7 linked regions of the Homo sapiens genome follow. The protein of the gene in region 1 purifies or fractionates together with the protein of each later gene. This does not show direct contact. Each region holds a gene or a part of one and is shown in the gene's direction. Other genes may lie near its edges. The genes, in order: SLC18A2, SEC63, FUNDC2, MBTPS2, RAP1A, OGA and MTM1.

What was found.
Region 2: the proteins of SLC18A2 (region 1) and SEC63 purify together in Homo sapiens (affinity purification with mass spectrometry; one large-scale study listed by BioGRID and IntAct). This does not show direct contact.
Region 3: the proteins of SLC18A2 (region 1) and FUNDC2 purify together in Homo sapiens (affinity purification with mass spectrometry; one large-scale study listed by BioGRID and IntAct). This does not show direct contact.
Region 4: the proteins of SLC18A2 (region 1) and MBTPS2 purify together in Homo sapiens (affinity purification with mass spectrometry; one large-scale study listed by BioGRID and IntAct). This does not show direct contact.
Region 5: the proteins of SLC18A2 (region 1) and RAP1A purify together in Homo sapiens (affinity purification with mass spectrometry; one large-scale study listed by BioGRID and IntAct). This does not show direct contact.
Region 6: the proteins of SLC18A2 (region 1) and OGA purify together in Homo sapiens (co-immunoprecipitation; one large-scale study listed by IntAct). This does not show direct contact.
Region 7: the proteins of SLC18A2 (region 1) and MTM1 purify together in Homo sapiens (affinity purification with mass spectrometry; one large-scale study listed by BioGRID and IntAct). This does not show direct contact.

Annotation. Positions count from the first base shown.
Region 1 is NC_000010.11:117,247,103-117,251,613, forward strand, and holds part of SLC18A2 (synaptic vesicular amine transporter), read left to right. Parts: intron 1-4,511. UniProt on the Homo sapiens protein: Electrogenic antiporter that exchanges one cationic monoamine with two intravesicular protons across the membrane of secretory and synaptic vesicles.
Region 2 is NC_000006.12:107,905,198-107,909,708, reverse strand, and holds part of SEC63 (translocation protein SEC63 homolog), read left to right. Parts: intron 1-673; coding exon 674-782; intron 783-2,931; coding exon 2,932-3,026; intron 3,027-3,128; coding exon 3,129-3,261; intron 3,262-4,511. UniProt on the Homo sapiens protein: Mediates cotranslational and post-translational transport of certain precursor polypeptides across endoplasmic reticulum (ER). Proposed to play an auxiliary role in recognition of precursors with short and apolar signal peptides.
Region 3 is NC_000023.11:155,029,264-155,033,774, forward strand, and holds part of FUNDC2 (FUN14 domain-containing protein 2), read left to right. Parts: intron 1-4,139; coding exon 4,140-4,290; intron 4,291-4,511. UniProt on the Homo sapiens protein: Binds directly and specifically 1,2-Diacyl-sn-glycero-3-phospho-(1'-myo-inositol-3',4',5'-bisphosphate) (PIP3) leading to the recruitment of PIP3 to mitochondria and may play a role in the regulation of the platelet activation via AKT/GSK3B/cGMP signaling pathways.
Region 4 is NC_000023.11:21,838,198-21,842,416, forward strand, and holds the start of MBTPS2 (membrane-bound transcription factor site-2 protease), read left to right. Parts: upstream 1-1,419; 5' UTR 1,420-1,537; coding exon 1,538-1,612; intron 1,613-4,219. UniProt on the Homo sapiens protein: Zinc metalloprotease that mediates intramembrane proteolysis of proteins such as ATF6, ATF6B, SREBF1/SREBP1 and SREBF2/SREBP2.
Region 5 is NC_000001.11:111,692,789-111,696,288, forward strand, and holds part of RAP1A (ras-related protein Rap-1A precursor), read left to right. Parts: intron 1-2,552; coding exon 2,553-2,621; intron 2,622-3,500. UniProt on the Homo sapiens protein: Counteracts the mitogenic function of Ras, at least partly because it can interact with Ras GAPs and RAF in a competitive manner. Together with ITGB1BP1, regulates KRIT1 localization to microtubules and membranes.
Region 6 is NC_000010.11:101,796,941-101,801,451, reverse strand, and holds part of OGA (protein O-GlcNAcase), read left to right. Parts: intron 1-1,051; coding exon 1,052-1,210; intron 1,211-1,996; coding exon 1,997-2,610; intron 2,611-3,297; coding exon 3,298-3,472; intron 3,473-4,511.
Region 7 is NC_000023.11:150,571,207-150,575,717, forward strand, and holds part of MTM1 (myotubularin), read left to right. Parts: intron 1-4,511. UniProt on the Homo sapiens protein: Lipid phosphatase which dephosphorylates phosphatidylinositol 3-monophosphate (PI3P) and phosphatidylinositol 3,5-bisphosphate (PI(3,5)P2). Has also been shown to dephosphorylate phosphotyrosine- and phosphoserine-containing peptides.

The DNA of each region.
Region 1 (4,511 bases):
CAAATGTGCATTCCATTTGCCTTTAATTGTCTTCAAGGAGTTAACTTGTGAGCCATTGCAAACAGTCTTTTGATGTAAACTGTGCCAATCACATCCTCCATGAGCAAGATGTATGACTCAAGTCTTCAGTGTTGTAAACAAATGTGTTTAAAGGCTTTTTAAAATTGGTTAATATGTTTCTGATTAAAGAGTAGTTAAAAATATGGAGCATCAGAGCTTGCAGAGACTTTTCCTGAAAGCTTTTGGGCCAGTCCTAGCATTTTATAGGCAAAGGAGTTTGCAGTTCAGGAGGAGAAAGCATTTACCACAACAGTGGCAGGACTGTAGCCACATGTTCCGACTGTCCCATTTCAAGCTTTGTTCTTCCCCGCTTCCTGTTCTTCCCACCTGCTTACAATTATACAGCTTGTACCTTTAGCTACTAGAAATAAAGAATGCAGCTCAAAATCTGTCTTTCTTGCACTGACTTGGGCTCTTCCTGGTTGTACCAGGCAGAACTGCTGGAGACCCAGTGAGTTGCTGATTTTGCTACTTTTAATCAATGAGCAGAGAGTTTAGAAAAGATCAGCCTGATTCCTGTGGACATGGAACCTCCCTGGTCCCTGAAATATTCAGTCTTTTTCCAGTCCCTGATGTGAACTGGTCCAGCCTCGTGCATCCCTAAAGATGTGTGGGGAAAGCTTCCTGTAGTCAGGCTGGGCAGAGCTATTCTTTTCCAAAGCTGCTTGTTTTAACTGAAGTGGGACCCACTCTGAATCGAGACATTCTACACCACACCACACCATAACTGGAATCCTCTATTCACAGTCGTGATGGTGCCATGTGTGTGGCTTTTGTGGGTAGGAGTCACAAAATGTAGGCCGCCTGTTTATTTATTTATTTATTTAGACAGGGTCTTGCTCTATTGCCCAGGCTGGAGTGCAGTGGGGCTATCTCGGCTCACTGCAACCTCTACCTCCCAGGTTCAAGCAATTCTCCTGCCTCAGCCTCCTGAGTAGCTGAGACTACATGCCACCATGCCTGGCTAATTTTTTTTGTATTTTAGTAGAGATGGGGTTTCAGCATTTGGCCAGGCTGATCTCGAACTCCTGACCTCAAGTGATCCTCCTGCCTCAGCCTCTCAAAGTGCTGGGATTACAGGCGTGAGCCACCATGCCCGGCCCTGTCTGTTTTTTTTAAATATTCGATAAGTTCTCACACCAAACCCTGAAAATATAGAGTAACAATTCTTGGGTTCATTTAACTGCTAATAGGATGCACATTCTTCCTGTTTCATTTGTTATTCAGATCCTGTATTTCTGCTGAAAATATATGACCAGTTAGGTGGCAAAAACCTTTGATTTGGGTGTGTGTAGTGATGACCTGGCCAATAGCACACTTTCCAAGAAAGCCTGAGGTTGCTGGATTGACCTGATTTCCATGTTGGAACCTCTTGCCTCCTATTTTATAATTTTGGCTGAACTATTCATTTCATGATTGCAGTTGTGTGCAGGTGGTACCAGAAATTATACTAGTGATACTTGGTCATCATTTGGTCTAAGAAGCAAATTTTAGATATATATGTCCATAAGAGGAAAGTTCCAGGCACATGAACAATGGGACAACACGTTTACATTTCTCTCTTCCCTCAGTCAGGTAACGATATGGCATTGTGGTCTTGCTTAGCATAAGGTTGAAATAATAGTTGCATCTTCAGAACCAAAAGATATTCCACACCAAACGACTGGCTTGGGAAAGAGTTAACTTCATTGCTGGGGACCGTTTCCCTTGCTTCCTTCTTAGCTTGTCATTGTCTCAGTGATCTGCTTTTTATCAAGCCAGCGTCAATGGCTTAATTTATTTCCATAGTTACTTAGTATATTTGAAAGCAGTTCTTTTTGCTTGCAAATCTTAGCTAACATCTGAACGACAAGGAGGAAGCCACAGGGCATGAAATCTCTACGAAATCTACCATGGTTTTATTTTATTTTTTTGCTAGCTTCAGCCAGTGGGTCTGAAGTGGGCTGTGTAGGAACAAGCAGTGACCTTTTCAGCTTCTCTATGGACAGGGAAACCGGCTGTTCTGAGAAGAGATCTCCCATCCTGCATGTGGTTAGGATGGTAGGGAGGGCTTGATGAGTCTTTGCTTCTGAAATCAGAGGAAACTGGCTGTGGAATTAGAACATTCCTAGGAGAAGCAAAAGCTCTGTTAAGCTATGTGTCAGAGAACAGGGCTCACGCCCAGGAAAGTGAGAAGTCCGTGCCCCCTGGAATTCTCTGGTAGCTGAAAAAGACAAGCAGAACCTAAGAATTTTGACAAGCGGAATCGAAGAATTTTATTTACTAAATGATTGACAAACCTCCTACTATATCCAGGCAAATTGAAAATATCATTCCATTTACTGACATTCATTTACTGCACACCTTTTAGGAGTGTGTAGGGATCACTGGAAGGGAGCTGTTGTCTCTCGTTGCATCTGGTGATAGTTTGCACCCTTCGGGGCTCTGTAGTCTGTATGCTTCTTGTAATTTACCACGGTAGAGGAAACTGTGGTTTTAGCAATCATGAGAAGAGAGCTTCCATTAGTCTCTATGGCAAGGATAAGCTAATTATTAACACTAGAGAAGTATTGTCTTCATTGACCATTTAGGGACAGATGGGGTTTCTCCAATGACTAAGTATATATAATTAACATAACTTTTATTGTTTTACATGTTTTTCTAGGGATTCATTATGTGATTTTTAGTCTTACTCAAATTGGATTAACTGCTTCGTGATGCTCTGTAGAGGATGACCGTGGGCCAGTATGACATTTGGCTAAAGGTTTGCTGAATCAGATCTGGCTCTGCTTAGCAATACTTTAATTGAGAAGGCCCTGAATTGAGACAAGGGGGGCAACTCAGACACAGATTGTGACTAATGTCAGTTGAGTTTCTGTCTGTTTAGGAGATACTGTGGGGAAGCAGAAAGGGTTTGGTCCTTCTGCCCACCACTCAATGACTAGGGACGCTGGACGACTCTCCTTCTATGGTGGGTGCCCGAGGGGCCAGAAGAGTTTGAGAACGGAGACCCAGGAGCTTCCCAGGGAGTCTTCTTTGCCTTGAAGCCGAGCTCTGGGGAAAAATGATGCCCAGCGCTTACCACTGAGCAGCCCATGCAGTGGCTTGGCCTGTGTTGAAAGTGCAGGCACAGGTGTGTCCGGTACTGAGGAGGCGGCAACATGAGCCTGGTTGTATCTGAAGCCATTGGCTTGCTCTGCAGCCATGGGTGAGCCACTCTGTCTCTGAACCTCAGCTTTCTCATCTAAGGTGAGGGTTTGGACTGGCTAGCCCTTGAGTTTCCTTCTAGCTGTGATATTCGTTTATTCCATACGTGCATTGTTAAAATCCCAAAGAAAATTAAAAAGAAAAACAGTAGCTGCAGTGTTTCTAAAGAAAACACAGTACCTCAAATGGTAAAAAGAACCCTCTGTAGGCACAAACGCTGTGGTTTTCAGTGAAACTGTGCACTCTCCATCCCATGTGCTCCAGCGTCCCCACCCAGGTGCACATCAGCAGGGCCTAGCACATGTTAACACACTCAGGGTATGCCCGTAGCCTTGAATTTGGGGCAAGTAATTCACCTCCCCGAGCCTCAGTGTTGATCCTCTGAAAAATGGATAAAACCAGCTACCCTCCCTTGGAATCTCAGGCCACCCAGCATGCTGGTTCCCTGCCTACAGTCGTGGGAATGTCTGAGTCTTCAGGTAGGGAGGGACCTCAGTGGCTTCCAGCCCACCACAGCTGTGCCCTGATGGGTTACCTGGAATACTGGCTGGACTGAACAGTGGGCACAGTATGGCTGGTGGTTTGGGGGCCACAGACAAGGGTTGCCACATTTTATTGAGTTTTGTCCTGAAACCACCCAGTGTTTCTGCCTACAGTCTGGGAAAGGGCCACAGATGTCTTATTTGCCTTCAGGGATGTCCCTGCAGCCTGAAGGGTTCCATATTAGAGCCTTATAAATAGCCAAAATGAAGAACTGGTGAAACAAGAGTGAAGCCCCTAATTCCAATAGCTTTGATACGTATTGGTACTTCAACAACTAGATTTTCCAAATATATATTGAACAGAGGGAGAAGCCTGTGTTTATTCCAGGACAGCCCGGAAGATTGTCATATGCCCGTTCTTTCATGGGACAAACTGTAGTTGCTGAAAATAAATTGCCTGTGAGTTCTCCTCTCTGAGCCTCCTGGACGTTTCCTGATTCAGTATCCTGCAGTGCCGTGTGAGCCCCCGGTGTTGGGTTTCTTTTGTCCACATGAATAAGGGGTACAGAGAATCAGCTCTGGGTGGGCTGAGACAGAAGAAGCTGTCACCCGATGGCCATCTGAACTGCAGGTCAGAATCCTGGCATCTTCTCTGGTTTACCCAATTTGCTTGGGGCCCCACTTTGTGAATTACAAGCTCATCTCTGTTCACAGCAGGGGAATCTTTGCATGGTTTGTGGGAGGGGACTGACTGTCTGGGAATCTGTCATGCTTGTGAGTTAC
Region 2 (4,511 bases), on another chromosome or scaffold:
TCAAGTATTTATTGAAGACATGCTGTGTGTCAAGAACCAGCTTGGTGCTTATAGCAGTGGGTAGTTTTATCCCTTTTTGGTCTTTAAGGTATTTCTATCCAAAATGGTAAATGTTTTGATTATATATATGCAGTGACTTAGGTTGGTGTTTAGGCTTCAGACAGTATAAATATTTGCTAAAGAAATCACTTGAAATATGCAAGAAAGAGGTCCTTGTTGTAAGACTCAGGTATTTTTATTGTTTTATGAATATTTAGAAGATTTGACCATAAACATATTCTGCCTCAAACTTAACATTTATCAGGGTTTTGTTTTGCTTTTTTTTTTTTTTTGAGACAGAGTCTCCCTCTGTCACCTAGGATGGAGTGCAGTAGTATGATCATGGCTACTGCAGCCCTGACCTCCTGGACTCTAGCAATCTTCCCACCTCAGCTTCCTGAGCAGCTGGGACTAGAGGCATGTGCCACCATGCCCAGCTAATGTTTGCATTTTTCTTTTTCTTTTGTAGAGACAGGGTCTCACTATGTTGCCCAGGCTGGTCTCAAACTCCTGGGCTCAAGCAGTCCTCTCACCTCAGCCTCCCAAAGTGCTGGGATTACAGGAATGAGCCATCTCGCCCAGCCTATCGTAGTTTTTATACTTTCTTTCTTGTTTAATTTTTTTTGTGTTTTAGGGCTCTTGGTGGTATCGCTCAATACGCTATAGTGGAGACCAGATTCTAATACGCACAACACAGATTTATACATACTTTGTTTATAAAACCCGAAATATGGATATGAAACGTAAGTAAACTTTAAGTAACTTTGCTATTAATCACATTGTTTTGTGACTTATGTGGGGTTGATATATATTCCTTAACTCTATACTGTTGAGATTCTATTGTACAGTTTTATAAATAGTTAATTTATATAATTAAAGCTAGAGAAAAATGCCAGCACCCTTTGTCACATTTCTTAATTTATATTTTCATTATTCACATTTACTCATATATTTCATCAGAAATTTTACCATAATCCTTATGCGTGCAAATTTTGTAATTCTAGCTAACATTTATTATTTGTTGTATGCCAGACACTGCTAGTTACTGTATGTGTCTTGACTCATTTAATTTTTGCTGTGTTCTCGTAAGTGAGTGCTGTTTTACAGTACATCTTATAGATGAGGAAACTGAGGCACCGAAAAGTAACACTCTCAAGGATACACAGTAAGTGATATCCAGGATTGAACCCAGGCAGTCTGGTTCTTGAGCCTTAAACCATTATGTTATAGTGTATTAATTGTAGTAAAAATAAAAAGTCTTAGGTGTGTTGAAAGAAAACTAGTGCTAGAGTATTTCATTCCCAGTTCTTATTTAAAAATTTAAGAAAAAAAATACTATTTTCACTTTCTTTGATTATATAAAGCAAACTTTGCAGTTTATCCTTGGGAGATAGAGTGTTACCTTTCAGAATGATGGCTCTGCAAAAATCATAGCTGCTCCTCCATCCCTCTTTAAAAAAAAATAAAATAAAAGAATGTAAGTTTTGAATTGTGTCTCCGGGACCAAAATGGACTTTTCTGCATTTTGGATTTGGCAATTTTACTAATTTTCTTAGTAATGAGAGAGACTTCTCATGGTCATATATGACTGTGTGTGAACAGATTTTACATTTCTGAATGAGTTAATACTACTTTGCCTTATCGAAAATATTACTCTTCCTAAAGCTGGATTGAAATGTTAATACAGAAACTTACTCCCTTATGAAAATGTTTCATGTTTATAATTTTAAGTGTGCTTTTTGCCTCAATCATTTTGATTTCTGTTTCTTTTCTGAGGGTGGTATCCTTACACAGCTTTGTCAGAGAAGCATTGTTTAGCTGGTGGATTTCTTTACACATTCTAGGTTATTTTAGCTGTTTTAGGAACAGTTGTTATTAAGTAAACATTTGAGGGTAGTAATAGTAATAGCTCACACAAGTACTGTGCTTGCTGTGTGTCAGGCACATATGAAGAAGCTGAGATACACAGATATGAAGAATATTGTCCTAGGTCATTTAGCTAGGAAGTGACAAAATACCAAGGTCTGTGCACTTAACTTCTATACTATCCTGCCTTTTGTGAGTACATTACATGGATTTTTTTTTCTCTGAGGCAAAGTTTCTCTCATCTCCCAGGCTAGAGTACAATGGCACAATCTCAGCTCACCACAACGTCTGCCTCCTGGGTGCAAGCAATTCTCCTGCCTCAGCCTCCCGAGTAGCTGGGATTACAGGCGTGCACCACTATGCCTGGCTAATTTTTGTATTTTTAGTAGAGATGGGGTTTCACCATTTTGGCCAGCTTGGTCTCAAACTGGCTGGTCTCAAATTCCTGATCTTGTGATTTGCCTGCCTTAGCCTCCCAAAGTGCTGGGATTACAGGCGTGAGCCACCACTGGCCTGAGGGTTTTAATCATGTGTATTTCCACAAAATCCTCTTGGGTTCCATAATAAAATTTTTTTGGAAAATTATAATGCATATTAGGTTTACAAAAGGCCTTGAGAAGTCATGTAGTAAAGAAACCTTTAACTCTTGTTTACATTATTTTCAGCTTTATTTAATCATAGGGCCCCCTTTTTTCACGTGAATTATTAATACCACACAGAATACTGATGTTCTATAGAAAGTTTCTGTGGAACTTTCAGTGATTTTAATGCCTCCAGTTGCTTTGGTGTGCTTTATTTGATCTATACTTCTGTTCACTTGTGGTGGTTGATACTGTGTACATTTTAAAAAGCGAGATGTTACTTTTTTTATGGAAGAAATAAATACTTGTCAGTGGAGTTCAGATAATTTTTAGCATTGTGCATGTTTAGAAAAGTGCTTCACTTTCAAGTGAATTAAGTATCTCAGGAGGGGGAATTAATGAATGAGCATATTTATTTACCTTCATATTTCTTTTGTTTTGTTAGGTCTTATCATGGTTTTGGCTGGAGCTTCTGAATTTGATCCTCAGTATAATAAAGATGCCACAAGCAGACCAACGGATAATATTCTAATACCACAGGTTAGGCTAATTTCCCAAATCCCCCGATGAGCAGTTAAGTATTAAAGTGAATACTTTTTTTAAAAAAAGCGTGTTTTTGAATAATTATTTTATTTATTCTAGCTAATCAGAGAAATTGGCAGCATTAATTTAAAGAAGAATGAGCCTCCACTTACCTGCCCATATAGCCTGAAGGCCAGAGTTCTTTTACTGTCTCATCTTGCTAGAATGAAAATTCCTGAGACCCTTGAAGAAGGTATTTGTGATTCCGGTATCTACAGAGGTTTAGTGGGATGAAAGCAGCAGAATTAATTAGACTTAATGGTGTGTATTAGTTTGTTCTCGCATTGCTCTAAAGAAATACCTGAGGCTGGGTAATATATAAACAAAAGAGGTTTAATTGGCTCATTGTTCTGATGGCTGTACAGGAAGCATGGCTGGGGAGGCCTCAGGAAACTTTTATTCATGGCAGAAGGCAAAGCCAGAGCAGGCAAAGGCAGAGCAAGTGTCTTCACATGGCCAGAGCAGGAGGAAGAGAGAGATGGGGGAGATGCCACACGTTTTTAAACAACCAGGTCTTGTGAGAAGTGTATCTCGAGAACAGCACCAAAGGGAGAACTCCACCCCCCTGATCCAATCACCTTCCACCAGGCCCCACCTCCAGCATTGGGGATTACCATTCAACATGAGATTTGGGTGGGGACACAGACCCAAACCATAGCATGGTGGTGCGGTGTGTTTTGTTGCTGTTCTTTTTTGGCCAAATAATTGCTCAAGGACTTTTTAAAAAAGAAATGTATATGCTACATAATTACTTCACAAATGGTTTGAAGATCTAAGTAAGTCAGACGTTTTGGCAAGTGTTAAAATTTAGTGTTTCAAGGTGAGAGAATGCTCTGTATAAGAAATGTTTAGTTAATTGCAGATCATACAAAAGTTCCTAATAATTTTTTTAAAGGACTTTGTAAGTTTTTGGAGGGAGCAAAATGGATTTCACAACAACCAACACCTCTCACCTCCCCATCTACAAGCTTCCTCCGACAGTGGTTACCAATAATGTCTGTTTTATAGTTATTTAAAGCTTCATAAGTACTTGAAGCCATGTATTCTGCTTAAAAGAAAAGTAGTTGATGGAGGCAACAGTGTTTCCAGGGATGTCATTAATTATCTCTTTTTCACCGACATTATTTCAGTTAAAGTTTTAAAAGACAGTTACTACCTCTAGGAAATAAATGTTCTTTTTGAATGATATCCTACCATCCCCCACCTCCTTTAAGGCAGTAATGCAGTTAAATGCTTCCGAAAACAAGGCCATGTGACGCTTAGTAATTGGTGATAGGACAGGATGCTTATGGTGGAATGAAGGAGCACTATTTAGGCAATATCATTGGAGTTGCTTTGAAATACTCAATTAACTAGTAATTCTGTTGCTAATGTTCTGTACAGATACATAAGCATCTCCATTTTTACTTACCTGTAAGAAGCAGGAAACAAATCATTGTTGAG
Region 3 (4,511 bases), on another chromosome or scaffold:
CCTCAGACATGAAACAAAGACAAACCACAGTGCTGTGGCTGAATTCCTGATCCACAAAATCTGAGAGCATAATATATGATTGTTTTGCTTCATGAAGTTTTGGAGTAATTTGTAGTACAGCCGAAGTAACTGGAACACTGCTGGGTTTTTTTGTATCTTCATATGAATTTTAGAACCAGTTTGTCAATTACATAAAAACCTACTTTTTTGCCGGGCGTGGTGGCTCACTCCTGTAATCCCAGCACTTTGGGAGGCTGAGGCAGGCGGATCACCTGAGGTCGGGAGTTTGAGATCAGCCTGACCAACATGGAGAAACCCTGTCTCTACTAAAAATACAAAAAATTAGCCAGGCGTGGTGGTGCATGCCTGTAATCCCAGCTACTTGGGAGGCTGAGGCAGGAGAATCACTTGAACCTGGGAGGAGGAGGTTGTGGTGAGCCGAGATTGTCATTGCACTCCAGCCTGGGCAAAAAGAGCAAAACTCTATCTCAAAAAAAAAAAAAAAAAGAAAAAAGAAAAAACCTACTTTTTAATTGAGATTGTATTGAATATATAGATCAATATATGGAGAGAATGAACATCTTAAAAATATTGAGTCTTGCAAAACATAAACAGTATATCACTGTTATTTTAGGTCATCTTCAATTTCTTGGCAGTGTTTTGTAGTTTGCAGTGTTTTCTAGTTTACAGTGAACAGGTCTTGTGCATCTTTCATTGAATTTACTACAACATAATTTTTGCAATTAAAATTATTTTGTTTTCCAATTCATCATTTCTAATACACAAAAATTCAAATGACTTTTTAATATTGGTCTTATAATGTGTGACCTTGCTTCTGGTACCTTTTTGTAGATTTTTCTGGGTTTTCTATATACACCGTTATATTATCTGCCAATGAAGACAGAATTATTGTTGTACCTCCTTTCTAATCTCTTTGACTTTTATTTCTTTTCTTTTGTTGCACTGGCTAGGAACTCCAGTACAGTGCTGGGCGAGGTGGCTCACACTTGTAATCCCAGCACTTTGGGAGGCTAAGGAGGGAGGATCACTTGGGGCCAGGAGTTCCAGACCAGCCTAGGCAACAAAGTGAGACCTCCTGTCTACAAAAAAAAAAAAAAAAAAAAAAAAATCAGTTGGTCATAGTGGTGCACAGCTGTAGTCCAGCTACTGGGGAGGCTGAGGTGGGAGGATTGCTTGAGCCCAGAAGTTTGAAGTTGCAGTAATCTGTGATAGTGCCACTGCACTCCAATGTGGGTGATAGAGTGAGACCCTGTCTCAAAACAAAACAAAAAACAGTTGAATAGATTTTAGGGAAAGAAAAGTGTTCCATATTTCACCATTAAGTATGATGTTAGTTGTATATTTTTCATAGATGTCCTATATCAGATTGAAGAAATCCCTTTCTATTCCTATTTTCTACTTTTTTTTTTTTTTTTTTTGAGATGGAGTTTCGCTCTTGTTGCCCAGGAAAATGGGCAGTGGTCTGATCTCGGCTCACTGCAACCTCCGCCTCCCAGGTTCAAGCAATTCTCCCATCTCAGCCTCCTGAGTAGCTGGGATTACAGGCGCCTGCCACTATGCCCGGCTAATTTTTGGTATTTTTAGTAGAGACGGGGTTTTACCATGTTGGCCAGGCTGGTCTCGAACTCCTGACCTCAGGTGATCCACCCGCCTCGGCCTCCCAAAGTGCTTGGATTATAGGCATGAGCCACCACGCCCAGCCCCTATTTTCTACTTTTTATTCTGATTTTTTTCTTTGATTTTAAAGTATAAAATTTCTGTAATTATTATTTTTTTACAGTAAGTATTCATTTAGATTTATCCACCTATTTGCCCATTCCAGTGTCTCATTCCTTTCTGCATTTCCATATTTCCATGTGGCATCATTTCTTGTCGGCCTGAATAACTTTTGTGTACCTCTTTGAATATTACTTCTATCCCATTCTTTCTAATCTTCTGGAACTCCAATTACATATATGTTTAATCTTTTGAGCAGTTTTTGATCATTGTTATTTGCTTACTTCAGCATCTTGATCATCACTGGTTCTGTTTCTGTTTCTGTTTCTTTTTCTTTTTTCTTTTTGGGACTGAGTCTCGCTGTGTCACCCATGCTGGAGTGCAGTGGTGCGATCCTTGGCTCACTGCAACCTTCGCTACCCGCGTTCAAGTGATTTTCCTGTCCCAGCCTCCCGAGTAGCTGGGACTACAGGCACATGCCACCACGCCCAGCTAATTTTTGTATTTTTAGTAGAAACAGGGTTTCACCATGTTGGCCAGGCTGGTCTTGAACTCCAGACTTCAAGTGATCCGTCCCCCAGGCTTTCCAAAGTGCTGGGATACAGGCGTGAGCCACCGTGCCTGGCCTGCTTCTATTTCTTTTATTTAAACAAATTTTGTTTCCTTTATATGGCTTTGCCTTTGCATGGGTAGTAGTCATTTTCTATTGTTTGTTACATTATGTGTGAAAAGATTGTACACACTCCATGCCAGATGAAGTTGATCATTTGAGGTCAATTTTACAGTAAACAGCTTTGAATAGTACATTGCTGACATTTCATATCAGACATTTCTTAGTGCGGTGTGTTTCCAGGGAAACAGGGCTGGGTATAGTAGGGGAGCCTGACATTATCTTCCCACAGAGAAAGGGATTGACATTTTGTTAAGTCTTTCTCCATGCTTGGGCAAATCATTTAACTTTGGAACCTTCATTTCATTTTTTTTTTTTTTCTGAGACGGAGTTTCACTCTTGTTGCCCAGGCTGGAGTGAAGTGGCGCGATCTCGGCTCACTGCCACCTCCACCTCCCCGGTTCCAGTGATTCTCCTGCCTCAGCCTCCCAAGTAGCTGTGATTACAGGCGCATGCCACCATGCCCAGCTAATTTTTGTAGTTTTAGTAGAGACGAGGTTTCACCATGTTGGCCAGGCTGGCCTCAAACTCCTGACCTCAGGTGATCTGCCCACCTTGGCCTCCCAAGGTGTTGGGATTACAGGCGTGAGCCACCACGCCTGGTGCCTTCTTTTTTTTTTTTTTTTTTTTTTTGAGATGGAGTCTCATTCTTGTTGCGCAGGCTAGAGTGCAGTGGTGCGATCTTGGCTCACCGCAACCTCTGCCCCTCAGGTTCAAGTGATTCTCCTCCCGAGTAGCTAGGATTACAGGCATGTGCCACCACCCCCGGCTAATTTTGTATTTTTAGTAGAGATGGGGTTTTTCCATGCTGGTCAGGTTGGTCTTGAACTCCCGACCTCAGGTGATCCACCTGCCTCCGGCCTCCCAAAGTGCTGGGATTACAGGTGTGAGCCACCATGCCTGGCCTTCATTTCTTAATTATAAAATTGAGTTAATAAGTAGTACCTACCTTATTCTGTGGATTAATTAGATGTACATGATTAATGTTTAGCACATTGCCTGGTAAATAGTAAGAGCTCAATTAAACATTACCCTCTCATCTTCATTATCACTGGAGATCCACGTAGTACTTAGAAAATTTGTGGATTACTGAATAGCATTGAGCTACTTCTGAAGAGAAGGGGCAAATTTGTTTCATTTGGGATGCATTACTGGCAGTTTTTTATAGGTCTTTTTGGATTTATTTATTTATTTGAGATGGAGTCTTGCTCTGTTGCCCAGGCTGGAGTGCAGCGGCACTATCTCGGCTCACTGCAACCTTTGCTTCCTGGGTTCAAGCAATTCTTTTGCCTTAGCCTCCTGAGTAGCTGGGATTACAGGTGCCTGCCACCACGCCTGGCTAATTTTTGTATTTGTAGTAGAGATGGGGTTTTGCCATTTTGGCCAGACTGGTTTCGATCTCCTGACCTCAGGTGATTCGCCCACCTCGGCCTCCCAAAGTGCTGGGATTACAGGCGTGAGCCACCGCGCCCAGCCTTTTTTGTTATTTTTAAATTTGAGAGGACAAACTAGAGGACTAATTTGAGATTTTCTAGGTTTTTCCCTGTAATATAGACATTAGTATTTGCTGATTTTAGTCTGATTTTCCAAAATTGCAACTTAGAATAAATTTACTATTTAAAATAGAATATTTGGAGGTTTCTTATTACATTTATGTCTGTTTCTTTAAATATCTCAATCTAGTTAGGTATAAAAGTAAATATTTTCTTATTTAACGTATTACTTCTTGTAGGAAACTTTGAGGGAAATTTTGAGTCACTGGACCTTGCGGAATTTGCTAAGAAGCAGCCATGGTGGCGTAAGCTGTTCGGGCAGGAATCTGGACCTTCAGCAGAAAAGTATAGCGTGGCAACCCAGCTGTTCATTGGAGGTGTCACTGGATGGTAAGTGATGTGAAAGATGTCCACTGTCTTTTGTGCATGATTTAGTATTGCAGTTATAGGTACCATCATCTCCTTTAACCAGTGAAAACACATTGGCTTCTGTGAAATTGGTCACTTAATGTGGAGCATGTATCTAAACATCATCTTAAAGTACCATTTAATGGTTACACATAATGATTGTTTCCTATATGCCAGGTTCTGTTTGAAGTATTTACATAGAT
Region 4 (4,219 bases), on another chromosome or scaffold:
TTCAGAAATTATTAAAGCTTAAAACAGCACTAAGTCTTTTGGGATACTTGTATATGGAAAACTGTGGAGTAACAGGGTGCTTGAATACAAACTTTTATAATTTACACCCAGCTATGTCCAAAGAAAACGGAAATAATTTATAACAACACATACACACACAAATAGGCAAAGATATGTAAAACAGTCATAAGCTGTCTTGAAGCTGGAGAAACATGTCCCTAAGTGAGTAAAACTTTAGGAAAAGCAGGGAGAATGAGGCAAATTAGTAGCAATATTTGTAATATAGGTTTCTGGTATTATTGTATATTTTCACTTGGAAGGGGGTTGAGGATACATTTTTATTTGGGATACTTGTTCTTGAGATAGTATTATGTTCTCAATATTTTGGTATTAGCATTATTATAGCTAATGATGCTTTTCCAGAAAAGTTGAAACAAATAACTTTTAAAGATGCACATAAATAGAACGTAAAAAAACCCCAATAAATAGTTTTCTTTTCTCTTAGAGATTATCTAGTTCAGTGGTTCTCAACCTTGGCTGCACAGTGCAATGACTTGAGGAGCTTAAAAAGTATAAATGCTTGGGTCCCACTGAGCATCTGATTTAATTGGTCGAGGATACAGAACGGGCATCGGGAATTTTAAAAGACCTTGGTGATCCTAAAGTGCAGGTAAGGTTGAGAACTGCTGCTCTAGTTCAATATATAATCAGGTATACATTAACGTTAAAATGTGTAGGTGTTCAGAGTTCTGATTTTTAACCATAGCACCATCTCAAATATTATAAAAGGTTGAAAAAAGAGCCTAATTTAATCAACATGGATAAATTTCAAAAAGCATGTTGAACGATACAAGCCAGACACAAAGAGTACTTATTGCTTTCTATTTACATAAAGTTAAAAATAATCAGAACAGGGGGAGGGGCTACTGACTAGGAAGGGACGCAAGAAGGAAATTCCTGAGAGGGAAATTTTCTCCATTTTGATTAGGGTACACGTATATATATATATATATATATTTATCAAAACTCACAGAAATGGACAATTGAGCTCTGTATGTATGATTTCATTACATGTAAATTTACACTTCAGTAAAAAGGATAAACAATTAAATCTGGATATCTATGACAGGGTCGGGGAGGGAGAGATTATTACTTCAGACGACCCCAAATCCTCATGGGTTAAAAGAAACAGCAAACCCCTGACCAGAACTGGCGAGAATGGAGAGTAGACAGCAGGGAGGGCCAAAGCCTAAGAAATCGCTACAAGACTAGATGCCGAGTTCGAACTACTGCCTGGACGGCAGCGCCCGAGCGCCCGCAAAAATAAGCCCCCGTGCCATTTCCGGTACTAGCAAATCCTCCTGTATGTCCCCACTGGAAGAGTCCGGTGGGAAACCGTGCCACCGCAAGGAAGGAGCCGGCGGTAGCTTGGTTCCTGAGCGGATGCTGGGGCTGTAAGGCGCGCGCGGTCAGCTGTTGGCGGTGCAGGGAGGAGGACGCCGGGGCTCGCCTTCCCTCCTCTGCCGCCGCTGCCGCCATGATTCCGGTGTCGCTGGTGGTGGTGGTGGTGGGTGGCTGGACTGTCGTCTACCTGACCGACTTGGTGCTGAAGGTGAGGGCCTTGGGCCTAAGGTCCAAGCCCGCGGTGCCCATGGCCGGAGCGCAAGGCCTTCTTTTCTCTTCCCCTGCCTGGCGCCTCCCGGGCTGGACGGTGCCCACGTGCGACAGTCCGCGTGGTGGATCGGCCCGGTGGAGTAAATAAAACATTGCCGGCCGCGGGAGGGTTGTGGCGGCCTGCGCGGCTGCCACTGTCGCAGTGCGGGGCAGTGCAGGCCCTTCAGCCTTCGGGTCCTGCCCGGGAGGCGCCAGTGGTGGGATCGGGAGGGCCGGGGCCCTGCCAGACCCAGCAGCTGCAGTGCAGCAGGGAGGAAAAGAAAACGTCTGCTTAGTAAAGACAGTGCTTTCCCTTATTGTTTTTAAGTTCAAAACGCTCTAGAGACTCAGATATTGGAATGAATCTAAATCAAGTCGTGATTGAAATCAGTAGTCTCAAATTTTTAAATGCATATGATCATCTGGTTTGCGGTCAAAATGCAGATTCCGATTCAGCAGGTCTGCGGCAAGGCCTAAAATTCTGCATTTCTAACCAGTTCCCAAGTGCTACTGATGCTGCCAGATCACAGAGTGTACTTCAAAGTAGCACACTCAAATAGCAAGGATTTACATAACCAGTTTCTAACTACTTGAATTCTGATTTACACGCTGCACCCCACTTCTTCACACTAACCAGATACCCTGGGTGCACGGTCCATTTTCCAGTTATTTGAGAAGGGTAGCAAAAAATCAGGAAGAGTCGTCTGACCACATGCTTCAGGCAAGCTTTTGGAATTGAGTACTGGGGGGTAGGGGATGGGGAAGAGTAACTATATATGTGGAATAAGATCATATAAATTCTCAAGTGTTTAATAAAAATTCCAGTTATGGATAGCAAAATCTTCATGTTATGAATACCATTTAAAATAGAAAACCATAGTATTGCATGTTTTAGCTTTAACAATAAAATGAAATGAGACTTTTCCTTCTATCATTTAAACTTGTAAAGTGCAGGAGGTTACATAGCGTAGTCCTTAGATCCAGGGCTGGGCTTCTAGCCAATGTGACCTTGGGAAAATTGCTATCTGTGCCTTGGTTTCTCATCTTTAAATAGAGATAATAGTAAGGATCTCCTAAGATTACAGAGAGAATTACATTAGTGTATCCACATAAAGTCTCGCTCCTCAACTTGAGGTTCAAGGACCAGTAGCACTTGCATCATTTCGGAGCTTGTTAGAAATGCAGAATCCCAGGCCTCACCCCTGACCTAGGGAATCCGAATCTGCATCTTAGCAAGATCCCAGGTGACTCCTCTGCACCTGTTTGTGTTTGAAAAGCACTGATGTGGCCGGTCACAGTGGCTCACACCTGTAATCCCAGCACTTTGGGGGAGGCTGAGGTGGGAGGATTGCCTGAGTCCAGGAGTTTGAGACCAGCCTGGGCAATATAGTGAGACTTTATCTCTACAAAAAATTTAAAAGTTAGCCAACCATGGTGGTGCATGCCTGTAGTCCCAGCTACTCTGGAGGCTGAGGTAGGAGGATCTCTTGAGTCTGAGAGTCAGAGGTTAACAATGAAACAAGATCGTGCCACTGCACTTTGGCCTGGGTGACAGAGCAAGACCCTGTCTCAAAAGAAAAAGCACTGATTTAAAGTACTTGGCATAGTGGTTAACGTGTCATAAGCAATACAGGCCACAATGATTTTGTTGTTTGAAAAAGCCACATGAGCCAGGCATGGTGGTGCAGCCTGTAGTCCCAGCTACTTGGGAGGAAGAGGCGGGAGGATCGCTTGAGGCCAGGAGTTCCAGGCCAGCCTGAGCAACATAGTAAGACACACACACAAAGCCACATGATTTCTTCATGTTGCATATGTGAAAAAAATCTAAAATAAAAAGAACTTTTACAGTCCCTAGTCACAAGTGTGTGAGGTGACCAAGATGTCACTGGTTTCAGTAACAACCCCTAGCTCCTTAAGAATGCACCAACCTCTGAGCAAAAGACCTAACGCCTACTCAGAGTATCTGCCTGGGAAATGGAGAGACCTCAACTTTTAGGAGCCTGCACCTTTAGTTTCTCTGCCTCCAGCTTGGTCTGCTGATCCACCCTGGGCTTTTCTAGGATTTCTGCATAGACATCTGTTAGAGAAGTTGTGTCACTCCTTTTCCAAGTCTTGGAAAACAAGTACACTTAAAATTTAACTACCTGAAGACTGAGAGCAGATAATACTACAGATCCAAAGCAAACAGCTACCTATATTCAGACTATGGTCATTTTTTAAGACTATGATAGGGCTAAGATTTCCTTCTTGGACAGATAAGTTTCTCACATGGGTGGGCATGAATATGACAATACTTACTGTACTTACTGTGTCAGGTATATAACACAGCCTTATGTCATCCAAAATCCTATATTAGTCAAGGACTTCAAACTTCCCTAAAGGTAAAACTCTTGTTGGGGCTGTGTATAAGCCCCTATCCCCACAACCCCAGAGAATTTAAGGGACATTATTGAGCCCAAGATGGCTTTAGATAAGTTTTTTACTTTTTACATGATCGAGGTTGGCCTAACTTCTTAGAGTTGTTGCTCAGAAGAAGAAAGCAAACACTGATCGCAACTGTCCCTTC
Region 5 (3,500 bases), on another chromosome or scaffold:
GCTGAGGGTAGATACCTGTAAAATCATAGAGTATCTCTTCAAGGTTAAATAAGCTATGAATAACATCAGTTACTTTCTTGGGAGTAGGATTGGATAGCTGGGAACAAGGGTGGTAGATAAGCTTAGTTATCACTGCATAGCCTTTTGTGCCTTTTTGAATTTAGTCCTATGTCCATGAATTACCTTTTCAAAAATAATTTTGGAAAAAGTCCATAGGAGTGAAAGAGGTCTAGGGAGATACTAGAGAGAGAAGAGCAGAGCCCAGGACTGAGCTCTGAGTACCTCTCAACCTTTAGAAAGTAGATAGGATTGGAGGATCTAGCATAGAAGAAGGTGTCTTTACTTGATTCCTCAAAAGTCAAGTAAAAAAGAGGAAAGAGATGATCAGAGAGCATAGAGGCAGTTGGACATGATAAAGGAAGCAGCTTTAGTCAGGTCATGTTGCCATAACCATAATGGGGTGGGTTGAAGATTAAATGAGAGCTGAGGAAATGGAATATAGACATTTGAAGAAGCTTGATTATGAGAGGGGACAGAGAATGGGGGCAGAAGCTGGAGAGATATTGGGGTTAAGGGAGGTTTTTGTTTTTGTTTTAGAATTGGAGATAGTAAAGCATATTTGTATGCTGGGGGCAATTCCTCTCCACTGGAGAGGAAAATAAGGATACAGGAGAGGGAAAGAGGAGATGATCCAGTACAAAAACCTGAGGAATAAAATTATAATCTATGTGAATGAATGAATGAGATGTCCCTGAAAATTAAGACAGAGGATAAGATTCAGAGGAGTAGTCAAACATTACTTTTAGTAAGAAAGAAATGAGAAACGTTGGATTGTTTTGCATTTTTGCAAGTCTTATTAATGTCTGGCTTATAGAAGGCACATGGGCTCTTTTGCCTGCTTCTGTATCCAGTCTCTTTCAATAGCACATGTTCTATACCCTTTGGAAGATTCCACTGTAAACTTATGAGAGAAGAAGAAGAGTACCTCTTAGAATACATCTTAGTATTGTTAGGAAGATAGTTTGACCTTAGGGAGCCTCTGCCTTGGACCATATTTTGAGACTCTCTGCTCTAGCCTAAAGCATATTAGGAAGCTGTATTAGACTGCCTTTTTTTTTTTTTTAAATCTTGAATCAGCATCTTGCCCTGGAGTGCAGTGGCGTGATCATGGCTCACTGCATCTTCAACCTCCTACACTTAAGCAATCCTCCCACCTTAGCTACCCAAGTAGCTGGGACTACAGGTGCATGCCACCACACCTGGTTAAATTTTTAAATTTTTTGTAGAGACAGTCTCACTATGTTGCCCAGGTTGGTTTCAAATTCCTGAGCTCAAGCAATCCTCCTGCCTTGGCCTCCTAAAGTGCTAGGAGTACAGCATGAGCCACTGCATCCAGCGTAGACTGCTTTGTATATTTAAATTATGTGTCGTACTTAGAAGATGAGGTGATTAAATCCTTGATAAAAATCATGATTAAGGTTTTTGGTGTGATTATATCTTGAGTTGCCTTTGAATAATAGAAGCTTAGTAGGAGAAAGAAGTTTGTTTACTATATTTGAGTTAATCTCTTTAGCTCAAGCTAAAATAGTATATCAAATATTCCTCTGAGTAATTTAAGTGTAGATGACCTCAGTCCACATTCTTACCCTTGCTTTTTAGGCAATAATGTACCAGACCCTGTTTTAAAGTTACCTAGGAAATATCTTAAAACCGTCTTCTGTACTTTTTTCACTTACTGAATGATAAATACGTATTTTCTAGTATGTGCTTTTGGATGCCTTTAAAAGTTGATAATATCTGAAAAAGATGAATGGGCAATATTTTCCAATGGAAAAAGTAAGGCTTTGGAATCAGGAAGATGTATGTTTGAATCTCAGCTGGCAAATAGGAAGAATAACTATTTCTGGGACAAATGTGAAATTTGAATGTGGTTATAAATTAAAAGTGACTAGCTTAATGTCTGGAACATAATAGACATTCAGTAAGTTTAAATTTCCCTTTCTCTTTTCCACCACAATTTAGAAAGGCTTTAACAAATTTACAAGATGCTGCTTGAGGTCCAGCTACCTGGGAGGCTGAGGCGGGAGGATCTCTTGAGTTCAGGAGTTCAAGGCCAGCCCAGGCAACATAGCAAAGACCCTGTGTTTAAAAAAAAATTAGAACCTTTGTCACTCCATTAAGGGCAGAGGGCATGGGATAAAAGTTACTATAGATATATAAAGGGGCAATAGGAGTTTAAATATTGATAATTTTTCATGTTTTAATTAGTTCAGATATGTTATTTGTATCCTTGTATATTAAGACTTAATGTAATTAACAGTGTATTATCAGTATTGATGACAGTTTTTAACATGACTACCTCCTTTCATAATAAATGTACTCTTAGTTATGGATGTATCCTTATATTGAAAGAATTAATAATATACTTTACATTTACGTGTTTACCCAGAATTTTCACATAATTTCAATTAATCATTATAATTTGTAGGTTAAGTAACATTCAAAGGAGTTTTCCTTTAATTTTTTAATATTTCTCTTTTTTTTTCCCCCAGACAGTTCAGTTTGTTCAGGGAATTTTTGTTGAAAAATATGACCCAACGATAGAAGATTCCTACAGAAAGGTAAAATGTGAAACTTGTACACACATGCTTACAAGTAGTTCCTTATGATGTTAAAATTTGATCTGTAGATTTGCTTTTTGAAAATAGTTTTGAGAAATAATACAAATATTGTGCATCTGTTTTTAAAAGTTTCATCAAGACAGAACATTTCTTAACAGAATACTACTTTGATATTCAGAGCTCTATGTTCTGTTACTGATTAGTGACTTGTTCCTTAATGTGGACATTTTCCTGGTGGGGAATGTTGCCACATATGAAAAAATTGCATATAAATAGTAGGTGTGTTTTCAACTTACTCTTTTGTTACCAACAATTAAGACCACCTTTATGCTTGAAGTTATCCAGTGACTGAACATTTTTATTTTTGTTTAGTTTTATAAGTTTAAAGATATCTTTAGACTACCAAAAAATTAGAGTCTGTGTAATACTATAATTGGGTTATATGCCATACATTTGTCAAAACCCATAGAATGTACCATGCCAAAAGAAAATCCTAATGTAAACTGTGGACTCTTGGTGATAACGATGTGTTCATGTGGGTTCATCAGTTGTAACAAATGTACCACTCTGGTGCAGGATGTTGATGGTGGGGTGAGGCTATGCATTTGTGGTGGCAAGGAGTATGTGGGAAATCTCTGCACCTTCCCCTCAGTTTTGCTGTGAAACTAAAACTGCTCTAATAAAGTCTATTTAAAAGGGAAAAAAAATTAGGTACTTGGTCTTGACAAAAAATATTCTGTAGAAGACCAGCCAGAGTTGTGGAAAATTTTCAGTATTTTCTATGTCAAATATATTGGGTGGGGTGGAGGTTATAAAAGGCTAGTAGCCAAGAATATTTTTTAAAAAGATTAAACTTTAATAGGAAAGGATTGCTTTTGA
Region 6 (4,511 bases), about 15 Mb from region 1:
GCCTTATGTGTGCTAATTTGTGGGTCTCTGTCGATTATCTCTTTTTTTTTTTTTTTTCTGAGACGGAGTCTTGCTCTTGTTGCTCAGGCTGGAGTGCAATGGCCCGATCTCAGCTCACTGCAACCTTTGACACCTGGGTTCAAGCAGTTCTCCTGCCTCAGCCTCCCGAGTAGCTGGGATTACAGGTGCCTGCCACCACGTCTGGCTAATTTTTTGTATTTTTAGTAGAGATGGGGTTTTACCATGTTGGCCAGGCTAGTCTCAAACTGCAGACCTCAGGTGATTTGCCCGCCTCAGCCTCCCAAAGTGCTGAGATTACAGGCATGAGCCACCATGCCTGGCCTCTTCTTTTTCCCTCAGCGCCTTTATTAATGAAGTTACAGTCGGTTGTAGTGGCTCACGCTTGTAATCTCAGCACTTTGGGAGGCCCAGGTGGGCAGATCACAAGGTCGAGTTCGAGACCAGTCTGGCCAACATGGTGAAACCCCATCTTCACGAATAATAGAAAAATTAGCTGGGCATGGTGGCATGCGCCTGTAGTCCCAGCTACTGGGGAGGCTCAGGTGGGAGAATTGCTTGAACCTGTGAGGCGGAGGTTGTAGTGAGCCAAGATCCTGCCACTGCACTCCAGCCTGGGTGATGGGGTGAGACTCCATCTCAAAAAAAAAAAAAAAAAAAAAGAAGTTACAAGGCCCTGAAGGCTATGCAATGTTTTCTTCATACGAAAAGCATGGTACTTTTGACCTTGACTTCCCAACAATTAGTACTCAGTAGACGGTTAAGATTGACTCTTCCACTGATACTAAAATTTATATTTCTTATTTCAATTGAGATTTTACATTTAACATTACGTTTAGGTTACTATCCTATATGAAGTGGTTTGGTGAAGGGTCTTGCTTTTATTTGAATTTTTATGTTTAAGGTTTGTTCTCATTCTGTTCTTTGTTTCTGTGGTTATACTGTGAAAACTAGTTGCATTTATTCTTCTCACTTGTCAGAAGGCTTTTGTAATCAAAACTATTTTTGTGCTTTTTTATTTTATTTTTTGCAGCTGACAGTGAAGATAGTACTGTGTCCATCCAGATAAAATTAGAAAATGAAGGCAGTGATGAAGATATTGAAACTGATGTACTCTATAGTCCACAGATGGCTCTAAAGCTAGCATTAACAGAATGGTTGCAAGAGTTTGGTGTGCCTCATCAATACAGCAGTGAGTTTGGCCATTCTTTGTTAAGGGGGTTAGATCACATAGTTGAGTCACAAAGTAAAGAACACTGTCTCCCGGGTGTGGTGGCTCACACCTGTAATCTCAGCACTTTGGGAGGCCGAGGCAGGCGGATCACCTGAGGTCAGGAGTTCGAGACCAGCCTGGCCAACATAGTGAAACCTTGTCCCTACTAAAAATACAAAGATTAGCCGGGCGTGGTGGCATGCGCCTGTCGTCCCACCTACTTGGGAGGCTGAGGCAGGACAGTCGCCTCAACCTGGGAGGCAGAGGTTGCAGTGAGCCAAGATTGAGCCACTGTACTCCAGCCTGGGTGACAGAGCGAGACTCTGTCTCAAAAAAAAGAACACTGTCATGTGCCTTACCTTATGCCCACTAAGCAAAGTGAAATTAAATGAAATTGGGGGATCTAGAGAATAAGGATTTTTAAATCTTACTTTTGGTCTTAAATATTAGCTTTTATTTTGATGGAATGCTAATTTCTCTTAAAAACATATTTTTTGAAGTAATTTAAGGGTTTTTAGACACAAATTTTCAAAAGAGAATGTAATAGTAGATGTTGGCATGTTTACCTCCCAACGCCCTTCCATTCCTGCATCCCTAGTAGTATAGAGAAATCTCATTTTTCTTAGAGGTCAAATTAATTTGGATCTAAAATTGAGGTTCCACTTAACAAATATGATAAAGCATCTTTCTGAATCTAATGTGTTCTATCTCTAATTCTGATTATCTGTGTGACCATTTTATTTATACATTTATTTATTTTTGTAGGTAGGCAAGTTGCACACAGTGGAGCTAAAGCAAGTGTAGTTGATGGGACTCCTTTAGTTGCAGCACCCTCTTTAAATGCCACAACCGTAGTAACAACAGTTTATCAGGAGCCCATTATGAGCCAGGGAGCAGCCTTGAGTGGTGAGCCTACTACTCTGACCAAGGAAGAAGAAAAGAAACAGCCTGATGAAGAACCCATGGACATGGTGGTGGAAAAACAAGAAGAAACGGACCACAAGAATGACAATCAAATACTGAGTGAAATTGTTGAAGCGAAAATGGCAGAGGAATTGAAACCAATGGACACTGATAAAGAGAGCATAGCTGAATCAAAATCCCCAGAGATGTCCATGCAAGAAGATTGTATTAGTGACATTGCCCCCATGCAAACTGATGAACAGACAAACAAGGAGCAGTTTGTGCCAGGTCCAAATGAAAAGCCTTTGTACACTGCGGAACCAGTGACCCTGGAGGATTTGCAGTTACTTGCTGATCTATTCTACCTTCCTTACGAGCATGGACCCAAAGGAGCACAGATGTTACGGGAATTTCAATGGCTTCGAGCAAATAGTAGTGTTGTCAGTGTCAATTGCAAAGGAAAAGACTCTGAAAAAGTGAGTATGTTTAATGTACCTGCTGCTGAAGCCTGGGTGGTTCCCCATACTGGTAATGTGGAAAAGGTTCTTAAATGAGTACACTGTAACTGACAGAAAATTGACCATGTTTTAGAATATGTTCTTTAGGCCGGTTATGATGGCTCATGCCTGTAGTCCCAGAACTTTGGGAGGCAGAGGCGGGCAGATCACCTGAGGTCAGGAGTTTGAGATCAGCCTGGCCAACATGGTGAAACCCCATCTGTACTAAAAATACAAAAATTAGCCGGGCATGGTGACGGGCACCTGTAATCCCAGCTACTCAGGAGGCTGAGGCAGGAGAATCGCTTGAAGAACCCGGGAGGCGGAGTTTGCAGTGAGCTGAGATCGTGCCATTGTACTCCAGCCTGGGTGACGAGAGGGAAACTGTCTCAAAAAAAAAAAAAAAAAAAAAGTATGTTCTTTACAGTGGATGTGGACTCTACTAAATCTGGTACCTTCAGTTTCATAGTTTGCCCTTCTAGTTAAGAATGAGGAAAGGTCATTATTTTAGGAATATTTGTCAGTTTGGGGAGACACAAAATGATACTTTAATGGTTAAGATAAATTGCCAGTACCTGACAACATAAGCAGCTTAATGTGTAACTGTGTCTCAGATTATTTTGTTAAGCTTACAGTTTTTTGAGTCTTTTTATTGATCTTCAATAGATTGAAGAATGGCGGTCACGAGCAGCCAAGTTTGAAGAGATGTGTGGACTAGTGATGGGAATGTTCACTCGGCTCTCCAATTGTGCCAACAGGACAATTCTTTATGACATGTACTCCTATGTTTGGGATATCAAGAGTATAATGTCTATGGTGAAGTCTTTTGTACAGTGGTTAGGTAGGTGCACCAGGAATAATCTCTTCTCCTCAAATATATTGTCCCTTTAAAAAAAATTATCCCACAGGGAGAAAAACATTTAGGGAATTGGCACATTTCCAAGTCTCTTCAATTCGTTGCCTAGGTTTCTTTCAAAAATAGGCATTATTGAAGACTTGAGATGCAAGTCTTAGTAAATACATCAAGCACATTAATTTTTCTCCCTTGGGCTAATTCAGCATAAGTATCTTAAAAGTATGTTAGAAAGTACTGACTTTAACTTGCTCTGACTGAATGCTTTCTGGATGGAACCCTGTATACCACTTTTATCTGATTTGGAGATGAGACACTATGAAATGTGACTCCACAAGCTTTCTGCTGCTTGCTGTGTCTTGATAACATTAATGCTATGTTTAACAGAACAATTGCTGAAATGACCTAAAGGGCCTGGCAAGAGGAAGCCATCCTCCCAGCCCTGTGCGCATGCGAGCTTTAGTGTAAGGCTATTCTGGTGCTATTCAGTATTATTTCACGTGGCTTTTTCTTTATCCTTCTACCAAGTATTGGTTTTACCAGGGGATAGAAATTGTAATCCCCTAAACATCTCTGCTACATTAAATGGACTTTTGTATGTCTCCTTTGAACACTGATTTTTTTTTTTTAAATTGTCAAACTTGGTAAAAAGCACCAGCATGGCCAAGTTTCTCTAGGGACTTCATTTCATTTTCAGGTTTTCAATCCAGCTATAAGGAATATGTAATGGACTTATATACAGCACACAGCAGGCAGCAAGGCTGACTGACATGTCATAGTTTTCATAGTAGTCACAAATACTATGATGGGTTTCATGGTCTTGGTTGTGAAATAGATATCTGAAACACCGTGAGCTTAGAATAAAAAGTAGTAGTGAGATTTTCCACTTTCTGCCTGTATACCTTTGAGCTCTTAAATATTTAAAAAAAAAAAAAAAAAGTTTCCCTGTGATACAACTAATTAGCTACTAAAAGTAGAGTCTCAGATTGTTAATTTGAAAATAGATAACTTTTTTTGGATTGCTGTA
Region 7 (4,511 bases), on another chromosome or scaffold:
ATAGATTGTTTTCATTATTCTTTAGTAATTTTCCTTTCCTGTTTTCGACCTCTTTGAAGTTCTGCTTTCATTATTTTCTAGTTTTCTAGTTCTTTATTTCCTTTTTGGCAGATGTGGGGGATAGGGACCGTCATTTGCCTAGAAGATTTTGACTCTGGATTGGGCAGCCTGCCCCAATTTGAATCCTGGACCTAATATTATCTGTGTGACTTTAGGCAAGGTACTTAACTCTGTGCTTTAGTTTCCTTATCTGTCAAATGAGAATAATAATAGTACCTTTCTCAAAGGGTTGCTGGAGGGACTGAGTGAATAATCTATGCTAAGTGCTTAGAAAAGTGTCTTGCATGTAGTAGACACTAAAGAAAAGCTGTTATTGACTTGAACGATATGGAACTCTTTTGTTTTTAAGAAAATACATTATTCTAGCTATGTCTTAATAAACTTTTGGAATCCAGTAGCTTGCTTTTCTCGACATTTCTCTGCATTTCCTTGTTGGCACGAGCTTTTGGTTCCAGGCGACGCTGGCAGCAGTGTCCTCCGTTCTTGCAGTGCTATATTCCCTTTACCATTTGGACTTAGAAATTTCTTGAGGCCAAATTTTGTTGCTACAAACAATAATAGAGCAAGAGAGGCCTTCTTCTAGTTTATCTGCCTTGAAAGTGAGAGTGTATCAGGAGACCCAGTAGGAGTTACTGAGTTAGGTCCCGTTGTCATCCTGTAGTTGGGGGAAGATTTTTCATTGGAAATCTTTGCAGTGTATTTTTCCACTGTGAGTACCACGACAGTCTCATCTTTTTCTTTTTAAGAATGTGGAGGCATCTCTTTAGATAATTGGCATTGTGTACTACTAGTGCTTTCTATTTCTACCAGAGGAACTATGGTAAATGAGCCTTTTGTTTGTGTGAGGTGGTAGAAAGCTTCCTGCATTTGGATTCCAGAAGCTGAGTTCAGGTCCCAGTTCTCTTCCTTAACTCTGTGTCACTGGACAAGTCATTTAACCTTGCTGCTAGTGGCTCTTCCATCTGTAAGATAGAGCTAATAAAACCTGCCCTGCCAAGTTTCCAGAGTTCGTCAGAGAATCAAATGTGCCTCAGAGCCCTTTGTAAAGTGTGCAGCATTATTATTATTGCATGAATGTGTTGTATAAGCAGTTGCTATTTGGAGAACTGGTATAAGAGGGCAGTTGTCCTTCCTGTTCTTGGACTGTCTTCCCTGTGGCTGTAGGTGTGGCCTCTCTGCCTCAATCTCCCTCTTCTGTCATCATTAAAATATGCAGGTATTTATATTGCCTCTTTCATAGGGGCCTGATGTCACTGGTATACCATAACAAGTTTTTGTTTTATGTATTCCTAAAATGGTAGTAGTGTATAACCAACAATCACAGGGTGACAGCAAGGCAAGCTCAGCCTCAGGGAATGTTGCCTGCCTCTCCCAAGTGTCTCAGAATGGAAGACTTTCTCTTTTCCAATCGAGACCTGACCGCAGCTCCTGAGTCCATACTAGACTGGATGCTTGTGCTTCTGGGGTTAGAATAAAAAGCGATCCAGGCTCTGGGGAAGAGATGGTTGATAGCTCCCCAGGTCTGTACCATCCTCCTTGCTGGAACAGGGCAGGCTCCTGAGTGATAGGGCAGGCGCCTGAGCGGCCTTTTCTCGTTAAAGTTGTTTCTCAGTATCTTGAAATGTCTCTGTAAGTTGCACTTTGCAATGAATTTCATGTACTTGTATTAGTTTAGTATTGCTGTTCCTTGACTGTTTGTCTTAATAGGTAACTCCTACATATTTCAGTATGTTTTTCATTTTCTATGATTGTAATAAAAAGGGCGAGGTTGGAGATATTTTTTCTGATTGTCTGAAACCTAAGATGGTCCTATACACACAGTAGACATTTAGTAAACATTATTTAACTTGAACTAGACAAAGGAGGCCAGCTTAGAATTGTTCACACATGATCATTGTAACCAATTCTGTTGCATGTCTAGAGATCATGCTCCCTGTCTGCCAGATGAAATGGAGCTCATGCTTAACCTTTCTTGCCGTGGTCAAACAGCAAATGAGAAAGTTCTTTGAATCAGTCATTGTCTTGCCACCCTTTTCTTCTCAGCTTCTTGATTTTTGAACTCTTGGCATGAGCAGTTTGAGTACAGATTAGTTTTTGCTTTGCTTGCTAGTATGTTTGGGGTGGGAAGTTGAAGGGGGAATAATTGAAAGTAAAAATAAAAGTTGTTTGTAACTCATTCATCTCTTATCCCCTTGCCTCCAAACCCTGACAGCACACAGCAATGCCCTTTCTTTAGCATGTGATAATTGTTATATTTTGATAGCATGTCCTTGAACTTTTTTGTGAGAAGGAAGCATTGTTTATTTCCCAGAGCCTTTTGCTTGGAATGTAATGGATTGCTACATCAGTTATCCTTTCCCCTTCTTGGGAGATGTAGAGGCAGAGGTGGGTTATAAGGTAGATTCTTAGCATCAGGTGGTGGTGCTTTAAATTCCCTTATATGACTTTTAAATTGCTTTATGGCCCTGAGACAACTTAGGTGGGGATTTAGGAGAATAGGTACTATGCTGGAATCCAGCAGGCCTGGAATTGGCCCAAGCTCTTTTACTGAAATAAGAAATGTACCTGCCTGCACAGCAGTGACCCTTGGCCATGACATGAAATATACCTGCGTGTCAGTACTGTTTGTGGATAACAGTAAGAAGGAAAGTTTGCACTTGGTTTCAGTGAGACCCCAGGAGGGCGCTGCGGTTAACACGGGTTATGTGACTAGGAGGATATGAGAAACCCCAGCCAGTATTCCATTTTGAGTTTCCTGGTTCTGAGGTGTTCCTTGCCCATGTCAGTGGTTCTGGATCTGGGAGAGAAAGCACAGGTCCCTACTGCCCTAACAAAGGGAGGACTGACCGTTGGTGCTGGCCCCCACCTCTTTGAATCCCTTGCTTGGAGAGAGAACTGATTTTTTCAAAGTTGAAGCTGAGTCTAACTCTGCTGGACATGTCCTTCCTTCACTATATCAACTCTAATAATCTCCCCAGAGATTCCCATTACGCCTATGGCATGAAACAGGTTTTTCTTATTGATGGGGATTGCCCTTGCTCCCCGGGAGCTGGTGAAACAGGCAGAATTTCAAGCCCCATCCTCACCCACTGAGACCCACCACCGACTCCTTAAGCTGAATGTGAATTTTAATGAGGCCCCCGGGTGATTTTGCAGTAAATTAAAGTTCGGAAATAGTCTAATAGTACCAGCTCATATCCTGGCTTCCCAGTCCTTTAAGATAGCGCTAGCCAATAGAGAATGTGTAATTTAAAATTTTCTAGTAGCCACATTGAACAAGTAAAGAAACAGGTGAAATCAATTTTAATATATTTAACACAGCATGTGCGAAATATTTCAATGTGTCATCGACATAATAATGACACGTTTTTCCTTTTTTGGTACTAAATTGTCAATCAGGTGTATATTTTACATTATAGCCCATCTCAGTTTGGATTAGCCACAGTTCAAGTGTTCAGGAGCTACAGCTGTGGAGAGATACATTTGGTCTTGATTTGCTGAGGATTTCATCAGATTCACTGTCAATGCTTAAATAGCCGCCTCAGTCATAATTTACATTAATATTAGGTGTAATCTTTGCCAAGTCCTTAGCCCAGTGCTTTTACATCAGGTCTCATATGAATCCTCACAGCATCGCTTTGAGGTAAAAACTGTTAAGATCCCCACTGAGTTTCAGAGAGGTTAGGTCTAAGCTGAAGCGTTTAGGAAGCAGTAATATCAGGATTTGAACCCAGGCAAGTCTGACTTCTGGGTTTGCAGCCTCCGCTGCAACTTCCTGCAGCTCTCATGACTACAGGGTTTTTTCTCGGTTTCAGTTTTTAGTTTTGTAAGCCATATTAAAAAGGCACCATTGGTATATGTATGAAATGCAATCTTCTTTCTTGAGGGGAACTTCAAAGAACTCGAGGAATGCCTCTTTCTTCTCTGGCTTTTCAGAGCTGGTGCAGAGTCCCTAAACAGAAGTTTCCTCATAGAGGGAATACCACGGACCAGGAGATTGCCTTTCCTGCTGCTCATTAGAATCACTTGGGGAGTTTTACATACTTGCTGCCCTGGGCATCGCCCACAGATATTCGAACTTAATTGATCTGGGCTGAGACTCTTGACATCTGCATTTTTAAAAAGTGGTCCCAGCGTGCAGCACTACCAGGAGCGCTTCTCCAACTTCATTGCCTTATGAATCACCTGGACTTCGAGTTGAAACACAGATTCTGACTCAGTGGTTCCGGGATGGGCCCGGAGAGCTTTTTCTTCTCATTTCCATCAAGCTCCCAGGTGATGCCAACAGTGTTGCTCTGTGGCTCCCACTCAGAGCAGCAAGCCACATCATAATCACCTGAGGGGTTTTTGCAAAACTACAAATTCCTGGCATCATGCCTGGAGTTTCTGATTCAGTAGGTCTGGGGTGGGGCCCAAGATCTTTACTTGAGAAGGCTCTTGCTTTCAATGTT